Regions from separate parts of the Homo sapiens genome. Here region 2 is linked to region 1. A link means that fine-mapping ties the variant in region 1 to the expression of a gene that starts in the linked region. Tissue or cell type: naive CD8 T cells. Region 1 holds a variant in brackets; the other region holds the start of a gene. All regions are shown on one strand. Distances are from middle to middle.

What was found. PIP is the estimated chance that this variant, and not a neighbour inherited with it, causes the effect.
Region 2: DRC11L starts here. The variant in region 1 is the best candidate, but not a certain one, in a credible set for the expression of DRC11L in naive CD8 T cells (Schmiedel 2018, PIP 0.75).

The regions. Positions count from the first base shown.
Region 1 is chr7:151,748,637-151,753,025 of GRCh38, forward strand. All of the region lies in intron 3 of PRKAG2 (protein kinase AMP-activated non-catalytic subunit gamma 2), which reads right to left. Among named protein-coding and RNA genes, the nearest start is that of PRKAG2-AS2, 56 kb to the right of the region's middle. RefSeq lists enhancers at 3,907-4,389, 4,311-4,389. The variant C/CTTT (reference allele first, on the strand shown) is at 2,462.
Region 2 is chr7:151,203,263-151,207,651 of GRCh38, forward strand. DRC11L (dynein regulatory complex subunit 11 like) reads right to left here and starts at 2,234. Exons shown (of 19, transcript NM_001304419.2): 1 at 2,182-2,234; 2 at 1,247-1,574; 3 at 133-252. The coding sequence starts at 2,192.

The sequences.
Region 1 (4,389 bases):
TACTTCACTGAAAATTAAAATGTAAAGGGGAGAAAATTGAACAAAAAAAATCTGGTAAATGGTGATAAGTATCTATAGCAGACAAAAATCAGCAAGGTACATTCTCAAAAACTCCCTTTGGCAAAAGCTAAAATAAAAATAAAAAAGGTTGCAAAACTCCGTCATCAGCAGCGGCAAGGAGGAAAGAACATCCGTGCCGTGCCACCTGGCCTTCGCCCCGCCGCGCCCGCAGCCAGAGAGATGAGCTGGGCACTTTCACCCAACCTGCCCCCAGTGACGACAGTGAGAGTATTTGCTAATCATTCGCCAAAATTTTAAAACACAGTTTTCTGGGCTTTAGGCAACATGGGGCTGGCCTGGGTGTTTTGGAGCCTCCGAGGGTGAGGAAGAGGCTGACGGTTTTCCTCATAGAGGCCCACGGGCCAGATGTCTCCAGAGAGGAGATGCTCAAAAGAAACTGTGCTCACTGCAAAGCAGAAGAGATGCGGTTAAGCAAGAGAACTGGATTAACCATCCATCCAAAGATCAAACTCAGAAAAGGAGGCTACGGAGAATTTGCCATCTTTTCTCTCTCCTCACTAGAAGCTTTAAAGGGATAGTTAGACCCTGAGTCAGCCTTTCACATTGTAGCAAGCAGACACCTGGAGGGGCAATGAGACAGTCCCCCGTCCATCAGCCTATCCTGATGCCCCATTTCTTTGAATCAGTGAACTGTAGTCCCCGGTATCCACCTCCCTCACTCTCTCTGCTTCCTCCATTTCAGTAAGCGTTCAGTGTCTACATGGGCCAGGTACAGAGAAGCAGCATATGAAGGTGACGTTGGTCATCAAAACTCTGCTGTTATGAAACATTTTTGTGCATCAGAGGACAATAATAAGAGAGTGAAAAGGCAGCTCACAGGAAAGGAGAAAATATTTGCAAGTCATATATCTGATAAGTGTCTAGTATCCAGAATACATAAAGAACTACAACTCTACAACAAAAAGACAATCCAATCAAAAAAATGAGCAGCTGCCTTGATTAAATATTTCCCCAAAGAAGACACACAGGTGGCCAAAAGGTACAAGAAAAGATGCTAAACTTTACTAGGGAACTGCAAATCAAAACAGCAATGGTAGACCACTTCACATCCTCTAGGACAACCACACTGAAAAAAAAAAAAAAAAGGAAAAGAACTGGGTCGGGCATGGTGGCTCATGCCTGTCATCTCAGCACTTTGGGAGGCCGAGGTGGGCAGATCACGTGAGGTCAGGAGTTTGAGACCAGCCTGGCCAACATGGTGAAATCCCATCTCCACTAAACATATAAAAATTAGCTGGGCATGGTGGCACATGCTCATAGCCCCAGCTACTCGGGAGGCTGAGGCAGGAGAATTGCTTGAACCTGGGAAGCAGAGGTTGTAGTGAGCCGAGATGGTGCCACTGCATTCCAGCTTGGGTGACACAGCAAGACTCCATCTCAAAAAAAAAAAAAAAAAAAAAGAACTGAACCGTTGGCAAGGATATGGAGAAACTGGAACCTTCATACATTGCTGATGGGAATGTAAAACACTGCACTGTGGAAAACATTCCTCAACAAGTTAAACACAAAATGACCATATGACCCAGAACCTGCAGTCCTAGGTATATACCCAAGAGAACTGCAAACGGGTGTTCCAACAACTTGTACATGAACGTTGATGGCAGCTCTATTCACAAAAGGTGGAAACAACCCAAATGGCCACCAGTGGATGACTGAGTAAGCAGAATGGAGTCTATTCTACAATGGAATATTATTCAGGCATAAAAAGGAATGAAATTCCAATATATGCCACAAAGTAGATCGACTTTCAAAACAATCTGCTAAGTGATAGAAGCCACATGCAGAAGCCCGCAGGTCATGGGGTTCTGTTTCTGTGAGATATGCAGAATAGGCAAGTCCAGAAAGGCAGACGGCAGCTTAGCATCTGCTAAGAGCTGTGGGAAGGGGTAATGGAGATTGAGGGCTAAGGGATGTGAGGTTTCCATTTGGGGTGATGAAACAGTTCTGGAACTAGATTGGGGTGATGGTCGCACAACACTGTGACTACTGAGTTATATACTTTAACACTGTTAAGGTGGCCAGGCACAGTGGTATGTTCCTGTCGTCCCAGCTACTAAGGAGGCTAAGGTGGGAGGATCACTTGGGCCCAGGAGGCAGAGGTTGCAGTGAGCCAAGATGGCACCACTACACTCCAGCCTGGGACAGAGCAAGACCCTGTCTCCAAAAAAAAAAAAAATTTGTTAAGGTGCTAAATTACATATTATATGCATTTTACCACAAAAAAAGTTAAACCTACAAATACTAAAGGAAAATATGGATTAATTCTACAATCTGGATTTCTAATGATGACTAAGTATGCTCATGCTATTGTCTAATGGCTATTTTCATGTCTTTTGAGGATTGCCTAGGCATGTCTTTTGCCATACTGATTCAAAGATTC[C/CTTT]TTTTTTTTTTTTTTTTTGAGACGGAGTCTCACTCTGTCGCCCAGGCTGGAGTGTAGTGGTGTGATCTCAGCTCACTGCAAGCTCTGCCTCCCAGGTTCATGCTATTCTCCTGCCTCAGCCTCCCAAGTAGCTGGGACTACAGGTGCCCGCCACCATGCCAGGCTAATTTTTATTTATTTATTTATTTACTTATTTTTAGTAGAGACGGGGTTTCACCGTGTTAGCCAGGATGGTCTCGATCTCCTGACCTCGTGATCTGCCTGCCTCAGCCTCCCAAAGTGCTGGGATTACAGGTTTAGTAAGCCACCACGCCCGGCCCAAAGATGCCATATTTTTTTTACAGCTACATGGTACTCTGCTATGTAGCTGTAACTTCTTTATTTCATTGAACTACTCTATTTATTATTTATTTATTTATTTATTTTTTTGAGACAGGTTCTCGCTTTGTCGCCCAGACTGGAGTGCAGTGCAATCACAGCGCACTGCAGCCGTGAACTCCTGGGCTCAAGTGATCATCCTGCCTCAGACTCCCAAGTACCTGGGACGACAGGCACATGTCTCCATGCCCAGCTATTTTTGTTTGTTTGTTTGTTTGTTTGTTTGTTTGGTAGAGACAGGGTCTCGCTACGGTCTTGAACTCCTGAGCTCAAGCAATCCTCCTGCCTCAGACTCCCAAAGTGCTGGGATTACATGTGTAAGCCACCTCACCTGGCCAACTACTCTCTTCTATGTGGGTGTTTAGGTTGTCTCTAATACATCTGCTGAGAAGGCCTAGAAGCAATGACACCCCAGGAGTGACATGCACACGTAAACACTATTTGCCACTAAAAGTGACAAGGGCTCTTTAGAGCAATGGCTAATTCCAGGGCTGGGGTGAGGAATGTACAAGATCAGCCAGAAAGCCAGGAAGTGCCCACAGCATGATGGGGACAGGGTGGGGATATGATGGGGAAAGTCAAAGGACACAGTGATCCGCCTGGAGAGGCTCCTGCTGGCCACGTCTAGGACAATTTGAGCATCAAAAACTTGATAATGAAGACATGGAATCAACCTAAATGCCCATCAATGACAGACCAGATAAAGAAAATGTAGTACATATGTGCTGCGGAATATTACACAGCCATAAAAAAGAAAGAGATCACGTCTTTTGAGGGAACATGGATGGAGCTGGAGGCGATCATCCTTAGCAAACTAACACAGGAACAGAAAACCAAGTGCTGCATGTTCTCACTTATGAGTGGGGGCTAAATAATAAGAACTTACGAACACAAAGAAAGAAACGACAAACACTGGGGGCTACTTAAGAGGCAGAGGGTGGGAGGAGGGAGAGGAACGGAAAAGATAACTATTGGGTACTGAGCCTAATACATGATGAAATACGTGGGTGATGAAATAATATGTACAACAGACCCCCATGACACATCTTTATCTATGTAACAAACATTCACATGGACCCCCAAACCTAAAATAAAAATTTTTTAAAATATTTGATAATGAGAAATAACATGGCACTGAATAGGATACAAATCCATGAGTCCATAGATACATACACACACAGGGAGAGAAGAAAAACCTGTTCTTTAAAGTAGCATTCCAACCAGTCAATGTAGAATTCATGATAAATTTAGAAAATCGCCTTTTGGTAATTACTATAGTAACAATTCAGGCAAGAAATACATATCAATCCTAAAACTAGCAAGTGAAAGTTTGATGAGAAAGAAGACATTTACACAATCCCAAAGTAGGTCCCCCTGAAGCCCTGACTGGTGACAAGGGGGAAAGTAAGCCCTTTATTAAAGTAGAGAACTTTATGGTGGCAGACGCCCCCTTCACCAAGTGACCGGCGTCCACTTCACCGGAAAGGTGTCGCGGCCGCATCGGGTGACCCTGCTGGGATGCAGAAGCCCAGGGCAGCCCACGGATGGGT
Region 2 (4,389 bases), 550 kb before region 1:
AACAGCCTTGAAGGAGGCCAGGGATTACCTAAAGGGCACTCTGGTAGAGAGCAGGGAGGGGCCTCTCTGCATTCTGGAGTCTTTCAGGAGATGGGGTATGGAAGAGTCTGGGAGGGTGTCACCCCCGTTTACCTTCTGGGAGGACACTGGCTCCAGTCTGGACAGGATCTCGGCCAGTATCAGCCCTCGCTCCCGCACAGTGGTGGACTGCTCCAGCAGGAAGTATTTGGGGATTGGAACCTCCAGGTCAGCCTTTGGAGCAATGTTGGGGGAGGAGGGTCAGGAATCAAAAGTCTGAGCCATCTGGCCGATCCGTTACCATTTTTAGGGGCTTACACACCCCCAGCACTGTTTTCCTCCATTTTAGAGTCCTGACTAAACTTAAAGGGTAATGGGGCAGATACCCCCAAGAGCCACTCCTCTCTTCCTCTGCCCCCATCCTCTGGCTGGAGTTGAATTCTGGAGGCTCATGGTAGGTGGCAGTGGTCTCAGACCTGGTTGTGCATCACAATCAACTGGGAAGCTCTTAAATGCAGATTCCTAGGTCCTCCTCAGACTACTACATCAGAATGACAGGACCTGGGGAATCTTCCCTGCGCCCCCACCCCCGACCAAGTGCACTGCTGCAGCTGGTTGGGGAAACTTTGAGATAGTCTTGGATATGAAGCAGTTACTGAACCCTGAGCCGGACTGGAGGCGCCGCAGAAGCTCTGTGCTCTAGAACAGCCTTCTAGAACTTGCCCGTGCACACAGATCACTGGAGGGTCTTGATAAAAATGCAGGTGCAGATTTAGTGAGTTAGGGATTCAGAGTTTCTCATTTGTGATGTCAATGCTGCTGGTCCAGGGACCACACTTTGAGGAGGCTCTAAAGGACTCTCCTCACCAATTCCCTGCGGTTCGTGGGTCTTCCCAGTCATGCAGGGGACCTCACCCTGACTCCATCCAACCTCTAAGTACCTCCATGCACACCCCCCACCGCCAAGGTTCCTGAAGCCCTTCCTACAAGGCCAAACCCCATCCTCTGATCTTCTCTGCCCTCCTTCCTTTCCTAGCAGTTGTCCCAACACCAGGGATATCCGTGGGGTGGCGGGTAGGCAGGGGTGGTCGGCCCCATCCCTACCCCACCCGACCCCAAGCTGGCCAGGGCGTGGCTCTGTGTCCCAGGTGGTCAAGGCCGGTCCCACCCCACCTCTCCCCTCCCGCTAGCTGGCTGGGGGCGTGGCTTCGCGGCTGCGCACACGTACTGGGGTGAGCTTGAAATCCTGCAGCACGCGGTCCAGGCAGTGGTTCTCACACAGGTCGGCGCGCACCAGCTCGTCCTTGAGCTCCAGCACGCGGCCCGCCACGCCGTCCAGCAGGCGTCGCAGCAGCCGCCGCTTCTGCGGCTGCACCATCTGGTCATAGACGGTGTCGAAGCGGCGCAGCAGCCCCAGGTAGTGCAGGTAGAGCGATGCGAGCCTGTACTGGAAGGACTGCCGCTCCCGGTCGGGCGCAGGTTCGAGCAGAAGCTGCTCTTGGTCCAGCAGCTCCTGCAGGGTCGCGTGGGAGGACTCCCAGAGGCGCTGGTAAGCTCTGGGGAGAGGGTGGCGGGCGCCGCGTGCTCTGAGCCACGGAGGAGTGGGGAGACGGAGCAGCCTGGCCTTTTGAGGAGTGTGGGCTCGGGGTACCAGAAGGTGTGATGTCACTCATGGCTCCTAAATGGACTTCAATGAGGTAAGGAGCCCGCAGGGCAATGAGTGGACACCGACCTGGTCTTAGGGAGAGTGTGGGATTGGGCTCCGCTGTAGGATTAGCAGAGAGAATGGGCATGACCTTTGGGGGTTTGGGGGAAAGCCAGCCCAGGCTTGGGGCTCTGGTAAGGAAGGGGTCTTTGGGAGTCAGGGGCAGTGGGGCCCTCCAGGTGTGGGGCAGCCCACGGATGCTGCAGTGATCTGGGCTGGTGGATGGGAAGTGGGGGTGAGGGATGAATGTGGAGGAGGGACCCTTCCCCAAGCAGAGCCCTGGTTCTGGAATTAACCATCGGAGGGAAGTTTCCACAGTGAAAGCTGCCAGGGCAGCAGCAGCAGCTGGGGTGGCCCAGTGCCCAAACCGCCACTCTGCCCCTGCCTCTCAGGACTAAGGAGATGCTCTGCCCTTTGCTGTCTCTGCCCTGGGAGCCCCACTCCAGCCCCTCACTCACCCCTCAGACATTGTGTCCACTCCTCCACGCTGCCCCTTGTTTGCTGGTGGTGGAATTCACAGAACCTCTGTGGCTCCCTGACTTCCAGGGCCACAGGGCAGAACAGCCTGTTTTTAAGAGTTCTGACCCATTGTACCAGTGTTCTAGGGCTGAGGCGAGGGGGCTGGTGGGTGCAGAATCGGGGACATTTATCTCGGAGGACGTCCTGGGAGCAGCGCGCTGAAGGGACTGTGGGTGGGTGGCTGCAGGCTCCCGCAGAGCAAGCTTTGGAAGCTTAGGGCAGAACATGTTGTCCAACTTTGGCCATTTTTCTTGTAAGGAACAAGTAAAATAAGTTTCTATTTGAAGTCCCCTGAAAGCTTTGGCGCTCTGGATACATCTGTCCTAAAGACATTACCCCCTAACAAGGCATCACCGCAGCTTCTCACTCTCAGCGGCCTCTGTTCCTTCTCTCAGCCCCCGCCTCCTGAGCCCCACAGCCCTCCTTCACTCTCTGGATGACAGCACGGGGAAGCCCATGTGGTGGAGGGGAAAGGCACTGATTTGGAGTCAGAAGGCCCTGAAGTCCCAGTTGCCCCCTTGGGTGAAAGTGAGCATAACCATGCTTTCCTCCCTGGGGCCTGCCAAGAGTTCACACCATTCCCATGAGCCAGACCCGTGTGAAGCATCATGCTAGAAAGTATAGTGGATGCTGTTCTGCATGCTTGGGGCTTACTTGGTCACCTGTGGGTACCACCTCCCGTCACTGCTACAAGTTCAGGAGATAATTTTTCCAAAAAGACAAAATATTATACCACTAGCAGCCTGAGGCTGGTCAGCTGGGGTGAGCTTTTTGGCTCAGTGTCACGTCGAGGCTTATGAATAAGTAAATCTAAGAGGAACAGGGCCAGGGAAACGGACAGAAGGGAGATAGCGGCAAGGAGGAGCAAAGAGGAGGAACTCGAAGGTGCCTATGAGCTACCTGAGGGTCTCATTAAAATGCAGATTCCAGGCTGGGCGCAGTGGCTCATGCCTGTAATCGCAGCACTTTGGGAGGCCAGGGCAGGCGGATCTCCTGAGGTTGGGAGTTCAAGACCAGCCTGGCCAACATGGTGAAACCCCATCTCTACTAAAAATATAAAAATTAGCCAGGCCTGGTGGCACATGCCTGTAATCCCAGCTACTCGGGAGGCTGAGGCAGGACAACCGCTTGAACCTAGGATGGGGAGAGGTTGCAGTGAGCAGAGATGGCACCACTGCACTCCAGCCTGGACAACAAAGCGAAACTCTGTCTCAAAGATAGATAGATAGATAGATAGATAGATAGATAAACAGATTCTGCTCCAGATCTGAGGGGGGACCCAAGAGCCTGCCTTTCTAACAAGCTCCCAGGTGCTTTGGCTCCTGCTGGCCCGGGTCATGCCTGGTAGGGCAAGGTGTGAACACAGGGCAGAGTGGGCAGGAGTGAGACTTTGGGGCCAGATCTCCTGGGCCTGCCTCTTGCTAACTGTGAATGTAAACGTGGATCATTAGTCCTCAGCTCACAGAACCTCAAGGTGAGGCTCGAGGTATGAGAAAATACACGTGACCTAGGTAGCTGCCGCTGAACGTCAGCTATTACTACAAGGCGATGCCTTTTCAATATGTGGAGATGAAGGAGACCACAAGCCAGGTCTGTCCAATTACAAACGGCACAAAGGATTGGAGGTTTGTCTAAATCCCACCCCTTCATCTTGTCCAAGCTTGGAAGAGGATTTATGGGTCATGTGCCCACAAGATAAGCAGAGGCTGCATGAGACAGGAAAAGCAAGTGGTTAAGTGGTGAGCAGTAAATCTAGGTAAGGACATAGGCGTGGCCGTGGTGCTTCTTGCAGTTTTTCTGTGGGTTTCAAATTTTTCCAAATAAAATTGGTGATGTTAGGAGTTTCAAAAACATCCCCACTGATTTGTTCCGAAATAAAGGGGAAACTGAAAAATCATACTGATCTCAGCAGGTTATTTAGAAGCCGATCTGGGCCTTCAGTTTTTATATCTTGAATAGATCTGTGTGGCCCCTTCACACAACAGTGCCTGTCGTACAGGATGCAATGACAGTTGGTGGGAAATGACATCGCGAAGACACAGCCTGAAAGAGGACCATACAGGAGGAATTTCAGGCCCCAAGAGGGAATCAGCTGGCGGTAAATCCAGATGCTAGTCCAGTCCCAGGTCCTATTTCAGCTCACTACC